Homo sapiens: one gene and its partner. The protein of the gene in region 1 binds, or shares a complex with, the protein of each later gene. Each region holds a gene or a part of one and is shown on either strand. Other genes may lie near its edges. A codon is read from its position in the direction of its gene.

Region 1 (7,375 bases):
GACTGCACACTAGATAGTAATTCTTCAGGTCTTTTACATAACCACCAAGAAACAGATATTGGTTTCTGCAATATAGTATAAAAGTCCACAATCAATCCAGTCTTAGCCAGTATCTTCAATTTACTTCTGTTGCTGTACAAATAATTGGCCATTACTAGGGCTTACAAGTTAATAACAGGACAAAAAATATACATTGCACTGACACAAAAAGTCAGCTGTGTTAAGAGTCATGCAACAAGTAACCAAACTTGCTGAAATTAAAAATACTTTCTAAAAACAGTTTTAACGGCATAAATATTTTATACACAGTTCATTTACCAAAACAAAATGTATTTAAATGATACAAAGCAAAAATAAGTTTCTACCAACTTTATACATAAGAAAGTGCAAAATAACTTATCTAGAGTGTTTTGCTATTATCCAGACGGATGGCTGCTATGGGCAGCTATTCTCTTCTTCAAAAGCATGACATTAGAGTTGCACACTACATAGAAATGTTAGAATACATGGATGAACAAATGAACAGGTGGATGGATGAATGAACAAACTACAAAGATCAGGCAGGAGCCCTATGAGGTACTCTCAGAAAAAGAATGCAGACCATACTAAGGTAGATGTACATGTTGACAATAGATGTTGGTAAATAAATTTACATGGAACACAGAAAGATATCCAGAGAAATAATTAGTTTATGTATGTGAGTGTACTTGTATGTGTGAGTGATTCTGTTGATTTCTGCATTAGAGGCAAAAAGAAAAGAAACCCGATTGAACAAAACAGTTGCCCACAGCACCAGCTGCCAGAGGAAATACTACCATGAGGGTTTTGGTTTCCACCTTCTAGTTATGGAAGTTCTGTTAGAAAGTTAGTAATGGAAGTTGTGTCGGAAAGTTTAAAAGTGTTCATCCCATATAGTTTCCTATTACAAAGAGGAATAACCTTTAAGTAACTACACACACACATTCATATATTCAAGTCTTTAAAGAACACCTCTGCCACTGGGTATGGGGTAAACATGATTCATGGACAAAAGGAGGACGCTTCTTTTAAAAAGTGTAGAATAACACTGCTACAAATCATCTAGAGGGCCAGACAGGGGCAAGGCCCACAGTTACATAATAGCACAATTTCTGCAACTGTTGAACATCAGCATTATTTATTAGAATTGAAGATGGTGATGGGGGAGGGAGAGTGTGGGGGGAGTAAGACACAGAAAGGAAAACAGAACACAACTTTTCTTTAAATTAAAGTATTAATGCCGATAATCCTTTTATTAACAAGTATATTTGAACTTTTAGAAATGGAAGTGTTTTAATCAATTTTGATATGTAATCATAAATAGACTGTAGGCTCAAACCCAGGTAAATAAAGATTTAAATTTAGTAAGCGTAAGGCACTAAAGCAGCCTTTCTATTTTCTCTTGGAGACCTAGTTATCATATCAGGAAGAACAAATTTGTTCTTAAGCTGGTTTCAGCCCATCAGGTACAAGATCACCATTGTACCAAATGCCTATTTTTGAATGCATGTGCATATATGTGCATTTTAGTGCATAAGTGTGCCTCTCACCAGGGCCTAAAGATGGAAAATTGGAAAAGCCAAAGCCGCTGTCCTTTGCATGATGCCTCTGTGAGGGTGTGAAGGCCTTTCCTTTCGCACCTGTGAAGGTGTGAAGGCCTATCTTGGGCCATTAATGATTCTATATTTTTCAAATCACAGGGCTTTTAGAATTGTTCATAATGTTATCACTAAGTTTCTGAAAATGTTAAAATCTAGATTAATTGTTTCATTTTTAATATATATTATATATATATATATATGTACATAACACACATTTAAAAAAATCCCACCACCAAGCCTTTTCTCTGTAAACTAATCTCTTAGCCCCTTCCAGCTTTAATCCCCCTGGATTTGTGTGTTCTGTATCCAACTAGTAGAACAAATTAAATAACTAAATATTAAAATACTGTAATTATATTCATAGCAAAAACAAAAAAATAGACATTGATACAGTATAAATCTCACTGTTTTCAGGTAGATGACATTAAATGGTAAAGGTTAATTTTAAGCAGTTCTGACATGATTCAGTTTTACAACAAAGTTTATATGTTAATTCTGTACACTTCTTTCTTTCCTTTTTTTACCCCTTGTTTGAAAATAAGCTATAGTAGAACATTAGTGTCACCAAAGACACATACTTATTATGTTCTATGCAAGATAAGCTAATTTTGGGTTACATGCAAATATATTTCCATTAGTTGAGACAGGGCTGTTTCCTGCACTACACTGGTCATCTGACCACCTTTCTGCAATGCTAAGAAGGTATTCTTTGACCAAACAGCAGTCCACATACAAGTTTAAAAGGGGCCCTGTTTATGTAGGAACAACACTGAGGTGGTGCGTAGCCAGGTACAAGACGCCCAAATATTTCCAGTTTATCTTACGGCTGGACTCCTATTCTCCCACACTGTTTCCTAAAGAAGGTCCACATTATTTTGGTTACTAGCCTAGTTTAAGTGGAGATACTGTGGGCAACTTGAAAGAAATGACATCAGGCACACAGGCTGAGCTTGAAAGGAAAAAAAGACCACAGATAATGTCTTTGGGGATTTAAAAAAACATATTTATAATTAATTGGTAAGTGAGGGATGTCAGACAAACCATAAGTAGTTCATTGAGTTAGTGGTTTAGTTTGAAGTTTCATGTTACAGGCAGTTAAGTCCTTATTTAGAAAAAAGGCCTTTTATATCTATTTACAATATACATAGTTACTTGCAAAGAAGTCAGATTTACAACCATTTTCTAAAAGCCTTTTTTGTTGTTGGTTTTTCCAAATAAGGATGAGTAGCTCTATAAAAATGAGATGCAAGAAAAGAGAGTTAATAAGTGAGGATTTTTCTCTTGGAGACAGCTACTGTCATCAGGGAGAACTGGAGGTCGAAAGTGTTGCTCCTAGGAACCACCTCATATTCTTCTTGTGCTGTTCACCTGAATCGCGTCTGCCCCATTCCTGTACTCTACACCCGTTTTATTCAATGATCCCTTTGAATTTTAACACTTCAAACACGTGGTATGAAGAGATGTGTAAACGGAGACTGTTTTCAATGCCTTCCAAGCTGGGACAGGAGAATCGGGAAGGGGTCTACAGACCATGGTCTCCACTCAGCTTGTTGAATCTTCAACAATTTCGAGGCCCATCTTCTGAACCTCTCTCATGCTGTAAGTTATAATAACAGTTCTGACAAACACGCACCGGGGATGAGATTTTCAAGCGTTTGATTTCAGATTGAAAGCGACTGCACCTAAAGGAAAGGAAAAGTCAATTAATTATAGGTCTTCTCCATGCTTGATCATGGGCACCGGAAACATTAATAATCGAATGGAAAGCTTGCAGTAAAATGCCAAAGGCCATACTGGTTTGTGTTGTGTGGCTGAACAAGGACTAAAAGGAAAGCTGTATTATTTGTTTCAGTCTATGAAGAAAAGCAGTATTAAACCAGGGAAGCTATTTCTTTGACTGACAAGAATTAAAAAAACGAAAACAAAAAAACAGAGTTAAGATTTTCCTATACAATGAGGCCAAGGTGTCTGAACAGTGATGTAAGGCCATTCTACCTGTGTAGACTAATTCTCATGGCCTATAAGCTTGGGAGGTATGTCAATGTCTTTACCTGGAGCTTGACATATTTCTCTTGGAAATCAGAAAAACTCACTAGCGGAAATTAGAAGACTCACTAATGAGTATCTATTTTCAAGAGAATTACTAATGACTCATTAGTGAGTCTTCTAATTTCCAAAAGAAATATGAGTTTGATCACTATCAAGTTCCATTGTGCTTTTAAACATTTTGATTGATCCACTCTTTAATCATTTCTTAAACAGTTAGACTGGCTTTCCTTTTCCAGTCCCAACACCCTCATTTCCTATTTATCTTGCTAGAACTGTTTGAAGGAGACTATTCTTAAGAGATGTTCAAATTCTTTAAGAAGTATTCAGAGTTCCTATTCCTGGAATAAAGCCAGGTGTGACTCAGGATGTGGTATTAAATCACTTTAGGCTTGGATTTTCAGAAGATTGAAATGGAAATGAAAAAAAAAATTTTTTTTTGGTAGGGATGGGGTCTCATTACATTGTCCAGGCTGTCCTCAAACTCCTGGCCTCAAGTGATCTTCCTGCCTTGACCTCCCAAAGTGCTGAGACTACAGACGTGAGCCACTGTGCCTGGCCTTGAAATGGAGATTTATGTTTAGTCCATTAATCTACCAGTAAAAATGTCCAGAGAGTAAATTAAGTACTATAACCTTATGGGTTTAAAGGACTGTCACTGGACCTCTCAGATCCCTCAAGAGTGTCAACAGCTCTCAGCCATAGAGACCACAGGCTGTGTGTTCTGGAAAGCACTTCCTTCTGTGCCTGCTTCATCAGAACTTATCACTGTTTGGTCAGTTTCCAATAAAGCTTCCATCCAACATTTAATAGCAATGGATAATTTAAAGAATTACCTATATTTAAACAATATTTTGAAAATTAAACACTACAAAGAACAGATGTGTGCCAGCATACATACGGGAGTGCTAGTACAAATCACTAGATTAATATGATGGGTGTGGAGGCTGAAAACTGTAATCCCAGCACTTTAGGAGGCTGAGGCGGGGGTACTGCTTGAGCCCGCGGCTGTGAGACCAGCCTGGGGAACATAGTGAGACTCTATCTCTACAAAAAATACAAAAATTAGCCAGGTGTGGTGGCTCTTGCCTATAGTCTCAGCTACTTGGAAGGCTGAGGTGGGAGGACTGCTTGAGCCTGGGAGATCAAAGCTGCACTGAGCTGTGATCGTGCCACTGTACTCCAGCCTGGGTGATAGAGGAAGACCCCATCTCAAGAAATATATATATATAGGCTGGGTGCGGAGGCTCATGACTGTAATCCCAGCACTTTGGGAGGCCAAGGTGGGCAGACCACAAGGTCAGGAGTTCGAGACGAGCCTGGCCAATATGGTGAAACCCCGTCTCTACTAAGAATACAAAAATTAGCCAGGCGTGGTGGTGCACGCCTGTAGTCCCAGCTACTCAGGAAGCTGAGGTAGAAGAATCGCTTGAACCCAGGAGGCGGAGGCTGCAGTGAGCCGAGATCACGCCACTGCACTCCAGCCTGGGTGACAGAGTGAGACTCCGTCTCAAAAAAAATAAAAATAAAAATAAAAGATATATATATATATGTCTAGCGGCTCTGTGCTTTGAAAGGCCTGCTCTATAAAACCCATTATGGGTTTTTAAATTTATTATCTATTTTTTTGAGATGGAGTCTTGCTCTGTTGCTCAGGCTGGATGGAGTGCAGTGGCGTGATCTCGGGTCACTGCAACCTCTGTCTGCTGGGTTCAAGTGATTCTCTCGCCTCAACCTCCTGAGTAGCTCACCACCACACCTGGCTAATTTTTGTATTTTTAGTACAGACAGGGTTTTGCCATGTTGGCCAGGCTGGTCTCGAACTCCTGACCTCAGGTGATCAGCCCACCTCAGCCTCCCAAAGTGCTGGCATTACAGGCATGAGCCACTGTGCCCGGTCCCATTATAGGTTTTATAGAGCAGGCCTTTCAAAGCACAGAGCCACTAGACAGAATCCTCTGCCAGCCTCACAGAAATTCCCACAGGAAATGGCTGGCTGCAACATTTTGGGTCCCTCATCTTGAACCAGACTGCCCAGCAGAAAAGGTTTAAGGAATCAAATGATGGAACACCTGTTTTGCCAGACTCTGAACTTGGTGCTTTACAACACTCATATATGTGATCTCATTTAATTCTCTCAATAGCTCTAAGAGGACTGGTCTTCTTACCCACATTTACAGATAAAGAAACCAAAGCTCAGAGAGGCTCGGTAACTTGCTGGCATTATGGCAACAGAAAGTAGCACAGTGAGCATTTGGTCAGTGTAAACCCAAAGACTATGCCCATACCAGTAAGCCAATGCTGCCTATAAAACCTCAGGAATGGACTCATAATTACACAAGTTGAGAATAATATGCTTTCTATGAAAGCATCTCTGGAGTAAGGCAATATAAGCCTTAAAGTGTACTGTCCATGGAATCCTTTCTGTTGTCTGGCAGAAAAAGTAACGACTGTGGATGTGTATCTGGGACCCAGGTGTAGGACAGAGATATCAACCAAATCTATAGCCATGGGACCACTGACCTTTCATATGGGGGAAAAATAGATCCTCGCCTCATGTTATACCCCAAAATAAATTACAAATGAATTAAAGACCTAAATGTGAAAAATAAAACTTTGAAACCTTTAAAAGAAAATAAACAAGATTATCTTTGTGATCCTAGGACAGAGAAAGAATTCTTAAGGCACAAAAAAGCAAAAATCATAGAGTAATACATGTGACTACAACCAGTTTAAAAACTTGTAGATGACAGAAAAAACATATACAAAGTTGAAACACAAGCCACAGACTGGCAGAACGTATCTGCAAGATATATAAAAAACAAAGGTGTACAGCACAGAATATATAAAAGAACTCCTCAAGGAAAAAAAAAGGGCAAAGTACCCAAAAGGAAACCCAAATAGCCAACAAACATGAAAAGATGTTGTCTCACTAGCATTGCAAGTTAAAACAACAAAGCACTATTTTTTAGCTATCAGATTGGCAAAAGTGGAAAAAGTCTGGCAGTACCAAGCATGACTAAGAATTTGGAGAACCTTCATGGCCTGTTGGAGGTAGTGGAGGTAGTATTAACTAGCACTACTGTTTTGAAGAGTAATTTGGCAATATCTAATTAAGATCAAGAATAAGTCTGTGTTCTATCAATTTCATTCCATCTCTAGAGGAATTCTAGCTTGTGTATTAGAAGGGCATTTATAGGGATGTGCATTGTAGCATTATTTATAGTACTGATAAAAATAGAAAAAAAAAAACCCTGAGAGGGCATCAAAAGGGAAATAATGATGATAAATTCATATAATTAAAATAACCGACAGTAGTTAAAATGAATATATTACAATAAGATATCTATATAAATGGATTTCAAAAACAATGTTGAGTAAGAAAGTTACAGAAGGGCAAAAACAGTATAGTACGTAAAGCTGAAAAGTAAAGCTGAGAACACCAAAATAGTATGATGTAATGTTTACAGAGGCAACACATGTTCCTGAAAGCATAAAAACATGGAGAATGGGTGTGATTGGTGAAAGGTGCAAAGAGGATACTTACAATGTATCTATAGTGTTTATAGAATCATTTCACATACAGGTCTCTAAATTAAATACGATGAAATATTAGCATATGTGCATTCTGTGTCATGGATGACAAGGTGTTTGTGACTTGTATGACAGAAAAATTTCCTAATTGTAGTAATAAAGAAGAACAGAAAAAG
Region 2 (7,691 bases), on another chromosome or scaffold:
CCCTCCCCTCCTCCCGGTCCGGCGCCCCCCTCCCCGGAGCCGGGGATCCCGGTGCCGCCTCTAGTGCTCGATGCTCCCACTGCTTCGCTCCACAGAAGTGTCCGCCTCAGCCCGGTTGAGACTCGAGTCCGCTAGCCGCTGCCGCCACCTCCCTCTACCACTGCCTCCCGCACTCCCGGACCGGGCCCCCTCCCCCCGCGCCGCCGGCCGCCTGCTCCCTCCTCCTCCTCCTCCACCTCCTCTCTCCTCCCTCCCTCCTCTTCTCTCCCTCCTCCCCCCGCCGGCGCCGAGGCGCAGTGCACCAAGGGTTTTGTAGTCCGTCCGGGAACAGCGGAAAAGGGACCGCATGAACCTCCGGAACTTTGATTCCCAGAAAGCCACAGGCTGGCGCAGGCGCACCAAGCCGCTCCCCTCCCCCGGGGAGCGGCGGGGAGACCAGGAGCCGGAGGGGAGAGCGGAAGTGCGCGCGCAGGCCCCTGGGAGATGTAGGCTGGGCGGGACCAAGAAAGAAGAGGAAGAAGGGATTAGAACTCTCGGCCACCATACTGCCTCGTTCTGCAGCTTCTTTCTCCCCAGGAGGACCGCCCCACTTCCGGCCTGCCGGAGAAATGATTGCTGGGAGTTGAAGTATTCCTGGCGATAATGGCTCCCGCTCCCAGTCTTCTCCCTCCCTGATTCCACTCTGCCGGATCCCACACACCGGCAAAAGTCTAGCCAAGTGACATGCAACTGAGAACAGCCGTTTTACTAGCTTGCACACATGAAAATATCTTAGTTAGAATGTTCTAGCAAATGTGGATGTTCACCTAAAGCAGGTACTTCGGAACTTTCTCCACAGGAACCCACAGTAAAAAAAAATTTTTTTTTACATGAGCATTTTTAACATTTAGTTTCACATGCGTGTTATAAAACTAAAGTTTCAAGAAATAATCCTCAGTATTCCATTCCATCACAACAAAAGCACCCTCTTTTTGCAGACAGGGAAAAGCCCAACATGAACAGAATAAACCAAAATATACTTCTATCCCTCCAGCTTGTACCCAGTACTCTTCTTTCCCCACCACTGAAACCCACTGACACCTTGGAAAGACTTAAAATCAGCGGGACGAGGGGAGCAACACAAGGCAAAATTCAGTTCAGCTTGGTGGTTTCCTCTTTATTGATGTGCCTCCTACCTTCCCCCCACAATTTCAGTCCCTTCCAACTACCCCCAAAAAAGAAGGTAGTGAAAGGAAGGGATTGCTGGGGTTCTGAGCCCCTTGGGCAGTCAGAAAGGGAACAGAAACCAAAACAATCACTGGATGTGACACAGACTGACAATCAAGAAGTCTACAGCAGGATGGGAAAGGCGGGCAGAGAAAGGGGAAGAAAGGAGAAAGGAGAGTTACAAGATGCCAACTCCACCATTACCCCTCCTAAGAGAGGCTGGAGAGAAAGCCACAAACATTAAGAAGTGCCGGTCCTGAATAAGGGAGGTGGTGTTTGAGCTTGAAGGAGGAGGAGGTCAAGAAAGGGGGGCCACCTCTCTCTTTGTAGAATGAGACCCCCCTCCAGCTCAGGGGCAGCAGCTTCACAGACCGTAGACACTTTCGTCACTGTAGGCAATGTAGAGAAAGAAGTCTTCTTCATGGTGTTCCTGGGATGAAAGCAGAAAACTGTTCAGCAACTGGGCTCCAGTAACTTAAACCAACCACGACCCAGACACGTTCTTCTAGAACCACAAACCATTGCCTGACTCCTTCACTGACTCCAAGGCCTACCACACGAGCAGTATAATCTCTGCAGTCCTGGGCAAAAAGGCCTCAAACTGTTTTCTGCTGCTTTGGAATGGGGAGGGGGACTGGGAAGAGTCCCGAACAGATAGTTTCTCTAGCTCACTGTTCTCTTTCCTTCTCTCTACTCCTACTGTTCTGTCCAAACCCCCAACCCACGGCTATTATGAAACTTTAAGGCAAGCCAGGAAGCTAGTCCAAAACTACTGATGTAACAACACTTTCTTCCCCTCACGCTCTTCCAAGATTCCTCTCCAAAGCCTCCACCACTTCCCAGTCACCATACCTGGTACAGCTGACCCATTGTGGCACTGGTGGGTGGAATGACATTGTTGACAAAGAAAAACAAGGCATCCTCAGCTCGGAGATGAATTCGCTTCCGGATCAAGAAGTAGAACTGACCAACTGCAAAAGATACAAGATGCAAGAAAGTCACAGAGGTCAAAAATGCCCTCAAAAGAACAGCTGCTAGGTGGAGCCTCCTCCCGCAGAGACTGCACTCCCACCCACAGGAAGCAAGCCTGAGTCTTGGATCAGGTTCCCACCTGTGAGATCAGAAGGCACCAGGTATTTCTTTTTGTCCAGGTCTCCTATCCGAGCTTTGGGAGCCTTTTCTACTATCACCTGATAAAGAGATGAAAATTAGGAGACAGAAGGAATGCAGCCCCGAAGCTGCACCTGTCAAGAACTCAAGAAACAATATTCCTAGCACCTAAATCTACCCCAGATTCATCTCTTTGTCTTTGTACACGCGGTGCAGCACTGAGTCCCAGAGATCCTGACCTCACTGACTGGAGCTCATTTAAATATCCAGGATCCATCCCCCAATAGGGCGTCACCATAAACAACTATCTTAATCAGACGGAGGTGACTTGTTTGGGTCGACTAGTGATTCAATCTCGCAACCTTAGCTAGCTGGGGGGATGACCATTTGAAGCTCAGGCTGTCAAACTCTCTAAGGCCTCAAATGCTAAGGTTTCTCTCTCCTGTCCACATCCCTCTCAACCCCACATCCACCACTACCCCACTCCTTTCATCCTGGGTCCCAAGGACAGCAGTTTCAGGCTCGCTGCCAACCCCACCACAGCCAGCAGCCTGATCCCTGCGCTGCCTGTCCCGATCCAAGGCCAGGCTGTGGCGTCAGCGTAAGCGTCCCGCGCCCTCGGCCCTGGCTACTGTCCTCACCGGCACCCGGTCCGGGTATTTCTTTCGGATCTTCTCGCCCTCAGAGCGGCGCTTCTCGAACGGATGCTCTTCTTTGTACACGAACTTCATCCTCCCGGGAACCGGGCTGGACAGGGCTGGGCTGAGGGAACCCAGGGGGGCCGGGACGGGGGGCGGCGACGACGGCGGCGACGCGCGGGCGGATTCAGCGGAGCGATCCACGAATTTGCGCCACTTCCCTATTCACCAACCCCGCCCCCGACTATCGGGGACTGCCCCCCCCGCTAAGATACGCCACTACCTCAGCGGCGCTAACGCTGCTAGCGTAGCACCACCAACTGACCGGCCCCCTCACGCCATTAGCGTAATCGCTTTGGAATCAATTTGTGGGCTACGCAGGCGACGTAGCAAAGACGGTTGGCTTTTGCTCATCGAAAATTACTCTAAACCTATTCCCCAACCGTCCCCTCAAGGAAGCTGGGGCTGAAGAGGAGTAAAAGATGGTAATCATCATACGAGACTTGGTTCTCCAAGTTCCTTTCGTTAACAACGTAGAGGAACAGCAGGGACAATTACAAGGTTAGCTATTCACGAACCGTGTTGCTACGCTGAAGGCGGCCGTTGACACCAAAACAAAGTAGTACCCAAGTGGCGGAGATGATCTCCAGAAATAAGAAGTCAAAAAGAAAACAGATGTTTGGAGAGATCTACAGAACGCTTAAGTGCCAAAATGAGTAGACCAATAGGGACTGGAGAGGAGGTTGGAAAGGTAGGGACTACGCCAGCGCGGAGGAACACTGCGGGACTTGAGTTAAATCATGTGATCTCAAAGAGGGCGGAGCGTCACGTGGCGGGTGCGCGAAGTAGGGCCGGCTTGGGAGGGCGCCGGGGAGGCGGGGCCGGCTGGGCGACAGCTGGGAGGGGGACCGACGCCTTCCCGGACAGCGGAGGTCGGGGCGCCAGCCACCTGGGGGCAGCGCCCGCTTAACCTGTCCACGTCAGTGCCCCGGACGAAGCCCGGTTTCTCCAGCTCTACGCCCTTTGGCCGTCCAGGTTTCTCCTTTCGTGCTTCCATAGCCGGTTTCTCCTTTCGTGCTTCCATAGCCTGCTTCTCCGAAGGTGTCCTTCCACTCCCCACCAGCGCGCCCATCCTGTCACTCGGCCCTTCCCGCCAAAGCATCTGGTGTCAGCATTATTGTATCCCAGGCATCTGGTGTCCGCATTATTCTATCCCTATACTCAACGCCACCTTTCCCCCTGCCCCTTGAGTCCAACAGCAGTCTCTTCCCCCTCTGCCTGTGGGACAGGGTGCATGTGAACAAAGTCCCCTCTCTTCACTTCCCAAAACCCCAGAGAAGGACCTAAGGCCGCTTTGGTTTCAAAGTTATAATGCATGGTTTAAAAGAGAGAAAAGGAAAAAAGACACAAAGCTGGTTACAGGTCTGAGGGAGTCTAAGGAGAGAAAAATAGAGGGAGAGTAAAGGGGGGACAAATTTAGGGAAAATCCAGTGGCCCAAAATCCCAGTATCCCACCCACAGCCCAGCCCTTGGAGCAGGAGTGAAGAATTAGATCAGTTTTGTACAAGAGTTTTTTAAAAAAAATCAAATCACAACAAAGCTGACTTGGCTTCTCTTTGAGCCTCCTGGATCACCGTATGTCTGTCACTCTGGCCAGTCCTGCCTCTTCACAAACACTGATTCGGCTCTCCTAGGCTTCCGCCTGTGTCCCAGTCTGGGGTTTCCATGGAGTGTGAACACGAAGTTAAGAGTGAGGCTGCTTCAGAGCCCCTGGCCCATGTGTCCATCCAGACTCCAAGTGGAGTGTAGGGCTCCCAGGGCAGAGAGGGGTGGGAGGGGCAGACCCTGCCCAGGCAGTCCTCACATTGGACAGGGCATCAGACGGCATCCCAAGGGCTCGCCCTCCCTTTCCCCCCCACCCCAACTCAGGTGGAGGGGGAGCAGCTGTCACCAGAGCCGATGTTGGTGAAGGTTTCGGCTCAGCACGGAACGAACATCAGCGGTGAACCTGGGGTGACAATAACTTGCATTGGTAGAGTACCTTATAGTTCATACCCTCACAACACTCTTGTAAGGCAGCATCACTGGAGATGTGGGACCTAAATTATCACCATATTCATGATTAGATAGGTTCAATTTGCCCACAGCCTACTAGCTAAAGTGATGAGCTTTGAAGTAAGACGACCTGGGTCCAAATGTTAAATTCTTAAGGGAACAGAGTTAAAACAGGACAAACCTTTTTTATTCCCTCTGAGGATCCCCCACCTCCTCCTTTCTTGAGATATCCAAGTGTCCAGAGCCCACTTCCCTTACCTGAGGGCATCCAGCATTGGGAGCAGGTTGAGAAGGGCTGTGTCGCTGGGGTCACTGAACCAGGATTTGATGGGGATGGCATTGTCTAGGGTGGGTGAAAATGCAGATGAGAAGAAACAGAATTCAAGAGAGACGGTGTTTTTCTCTTCTTGGAGGGAAGGAGGAATTATTGTTAAAAATATATGCCTCCCACTACCGGAAGTCAACAACCTAAGTAAAACTTTCCTGGTTTATGCTCCGAAACTAAGTTTTAATCACCAGATCTCATACCTATTGATGCTTCTAGTCAAGCTTACTGCCATTGTGCCTCACTTGAAACACACTTGGCCAGGCGCAGTGGCTCACACCTGTTATCCCAACACTTTGAGAGGCCGAGGTGGGAGGATCACTTGAGCTCAGGAGTTTGAGTCCAGCCTGGGCAACATAATGAGATCCCTTCTCTACTAAAAATCAAAAAATTGGCCAAGGGCAGTGGCTTACGCCTGTAATCCCAGCACTTTGGGAGGCCAAAGCGGACGAATCACGAGGTCAGGAATTCAAGACCAGCCTGGCCAACGTGGTGAAACTCCGTCGCTACTAAAAATACAAAAAATTAGCTGCGCGTGGTGGCAGGTGCCTGTGATCCCAGCTACTTGGGAGGCTGAGGCAGGAGAATTGCTTGAACCTGGAAGTCGGAGGTTGCAGTAAGCCGAGATCACGCCACTGCATTCCAGCCTGGGTGACAGTGCGAGACTCTGTCTCAAAAAAAAATAAAAAATAAAAAAATTAGCTGGGCATGGTGGTGCACGCCTGTAGTCCCAACTACTGAGAGGCTGAGGCAGAAGGATCACTTGAGCCTGGGAGATCGAGGCTGCAGTGAGCTATGATCATGACACTGCACTCCAGCCTGGGAACAGAGTGAGACCCTATCTCAAAAAATAAATAAAAATAAATTTTATTTTTATTTATTTATTATTTATTTTTTTTGAGACGGCGTCTCGCTCTGTCACCCAGGCTGGAGTGCAATGGTGCAATCTCGGCTCACTGCAACCTCCGCCTCCCGGGTTCAAGCGATTCTCCTGCCTCAGCCTCCCGAGTTGCTGGGATTACAGGCGTGCGCCACCACGCCTGGCTAGTTTTTTCTATTTTTAGTAGAGATGGGGTTTCACCATGTTTGTTAGGCTGGTCTCGAACTTCTGACCTCGTGATCCGCCTGCCTCGGCCTCCCAAAGTGCTGGGATTACAAGCATAATCCACCGTGCCCAGCCAAAAATAAATTTTAAAAATGAAAAAAATGATATAAGAAATCCGACTTATGAAATGGACATATATGGTATCTCATTTGAAACACAAAAATAACTTGCATTTCGACTTACAGCAAACTAGGGATAATCTAGGGAATCCCAGCTCTCAAGGACCAAAGCCCAGGTCTCCTGCAAAAATACCTTCTCAGAACCATGTTCTGGTCCTGCCAGACTCACCACCTTCCCCCGTACCTGGATGGCTCCTGTAAGCCCCTGGGGAGTTATCCAGGATCACAATGCTGGAGAGGTCACTGTGGACCACAGAGAGGTCCTTGATGTAGCTGCCCAACTCCAAAGTGCAGTGCTGGAAGGCAGGGGATCATGTAGCAGGCCTCTCTCCAGGATACTCTCCTCAAACCCAGATCCCTCCCTGGTGGCCTCCCTCCCAAGCCACACTCTTAGACTGGGATTCTAGCTTACCTGTCTGTAATATCTCCTCTTAAGAATGCTTCTGCTATTGTCCAGTTTATCTGCCACAGCAGAGCCATAGATCTCCATGCTTGCTGTAAACACCACCAGCTCGTACCACTGGCTCACCTGAAATAGATTGGGGGAGAGGGCGATGCCATACAAGGTGATGATTCCTTTAGACATACAGTTATCTTTCAGAAAGGCAATGGCATAGTCCTTCAGGCCTTCCATCAACATCAAATGTCTCTGAGGACACGAAATTCTGAACCCCCAGCCCAAACCTCCAAACTCAGTGTTAGGCATCCTACACTCTTATGATTCAGAAATGCAAGAACAAAAGAGAAAGATGCCAGCGGAAAAGAATTACATCAGCACAACAAATGAACCCCAAGTACTGAAAGCCACTCCCCTACCATTACACAGCCTCCCCTCTAGAAAACTGCTCTAACCCGTTTCTCCTCACCCCTTCCTCCAAATCCTCCCAATTCCCAGAGCCCTAAAACCATTCCTTCATTACAGAGCTCCCTTTAGCTCTCCAAAACTCACCACTTCCAGGAAGAAATCCACATGGGGCCTCTTATGTACAAAAAACCGGACAGGATGTTTGTCTATTACCACCTACAGAGGAACAAGATGGGCTGGGGGATGTCATGACCACCACAACCCAGGCCTAGAAAACGCCCCACCCATCTGCTTCCCTCCTCCAGGCTGACACTGGTGCCAGCGGATG

What was found.
Region 2: the proteins of WDFY3 (region 1) and GABARAP are in contact, whole or in part, in a crystal structure (PDB 3WIM), measured with the Homo sapiens proteins. Residues at the interface, in NP_055806.2 of Homo sapiens: Glu3342, Lys3343, Asp3344, Gly3345, Phe3346, Ile3347, Phe3348, Val3349, Asn3350, Tyr3351, Ser3352; in NP_009209.1 of Homo sapiens: Glu17 (codon at 2,999), Ile21 (codon at 2,987), Lys24 (codon at 2,978), Tyr25 (codon at 2,975), Arg28 (codon at 2,966), Pro30 (codon at 2,960), Lys46 (codon at 2,351), Lys48 (codon at 2,345), Tyr49 (codon at 2,342), Leu50 (codon at 2,339), Val51 (codon at 2,336), Pro52 (codon at 2,333), Asp54 (codon at 2,327), Leu55 (codon at 2,324), Leu63 (codon at 2,160), Lys66 (codon at 2,151), Arg67 (codon at 2,148), Phe104 (codon at 1,615).

What each region holds. Positions count from the first base shown.
Region 1 is NC_000004.12:84,669,691-84,677,065, forward strand, and holds part of WDFY3 (WD repeat and FYVE domain-containing protein 3), read right to left. Parts: intron 3,302-7,375; coding exon 3,178-3,301; 3' UTR 1-3,177. UniProt on the Homo sapiens protein: Required for selective macroautophagy (aggrephagy). Acts as an adapter protein by linking specific proteins destined for degradation to the core autophagic machinery members, such as the ATG5-ATG12-ATG16L E3-like ligase, SQSTM1 and LC3.
Region 2 is NC_000017.11:7,239,284-7,246,974, forward strand, and holds GABARAP (gamma-aminobutyric acid receptor-associated protein), read right to left. Parts: upstream 3,167-7,691; 5' UTR 3,048-3,166; coding exon 2,958-3,047; intron 2,397-2,957; coding exon 2,318-2,396; intron 2,178-2,317; coding exon 2,059-2,177; intron 1,637-2,058; coding exon 1,571-1,636; 3' UTR 725-1,570; downstream 1-724. Other genes in the region: PHF23 (PHD finger protein 23), read right to left, coding at 303-348; CTDNEP1 (CTD nuclear envelope phosphatase 1), read right to left, coding at 4,902-4,962, 5,268-5,352, 6,743-6,854, 6,971-7,087, 7,508-7,579. UniProt on the Homo sapiens protein: Ubiquitin-like modifier that plays a role in intracellular transport of GABA(A) receptors and its interaction with the cytoskeleton.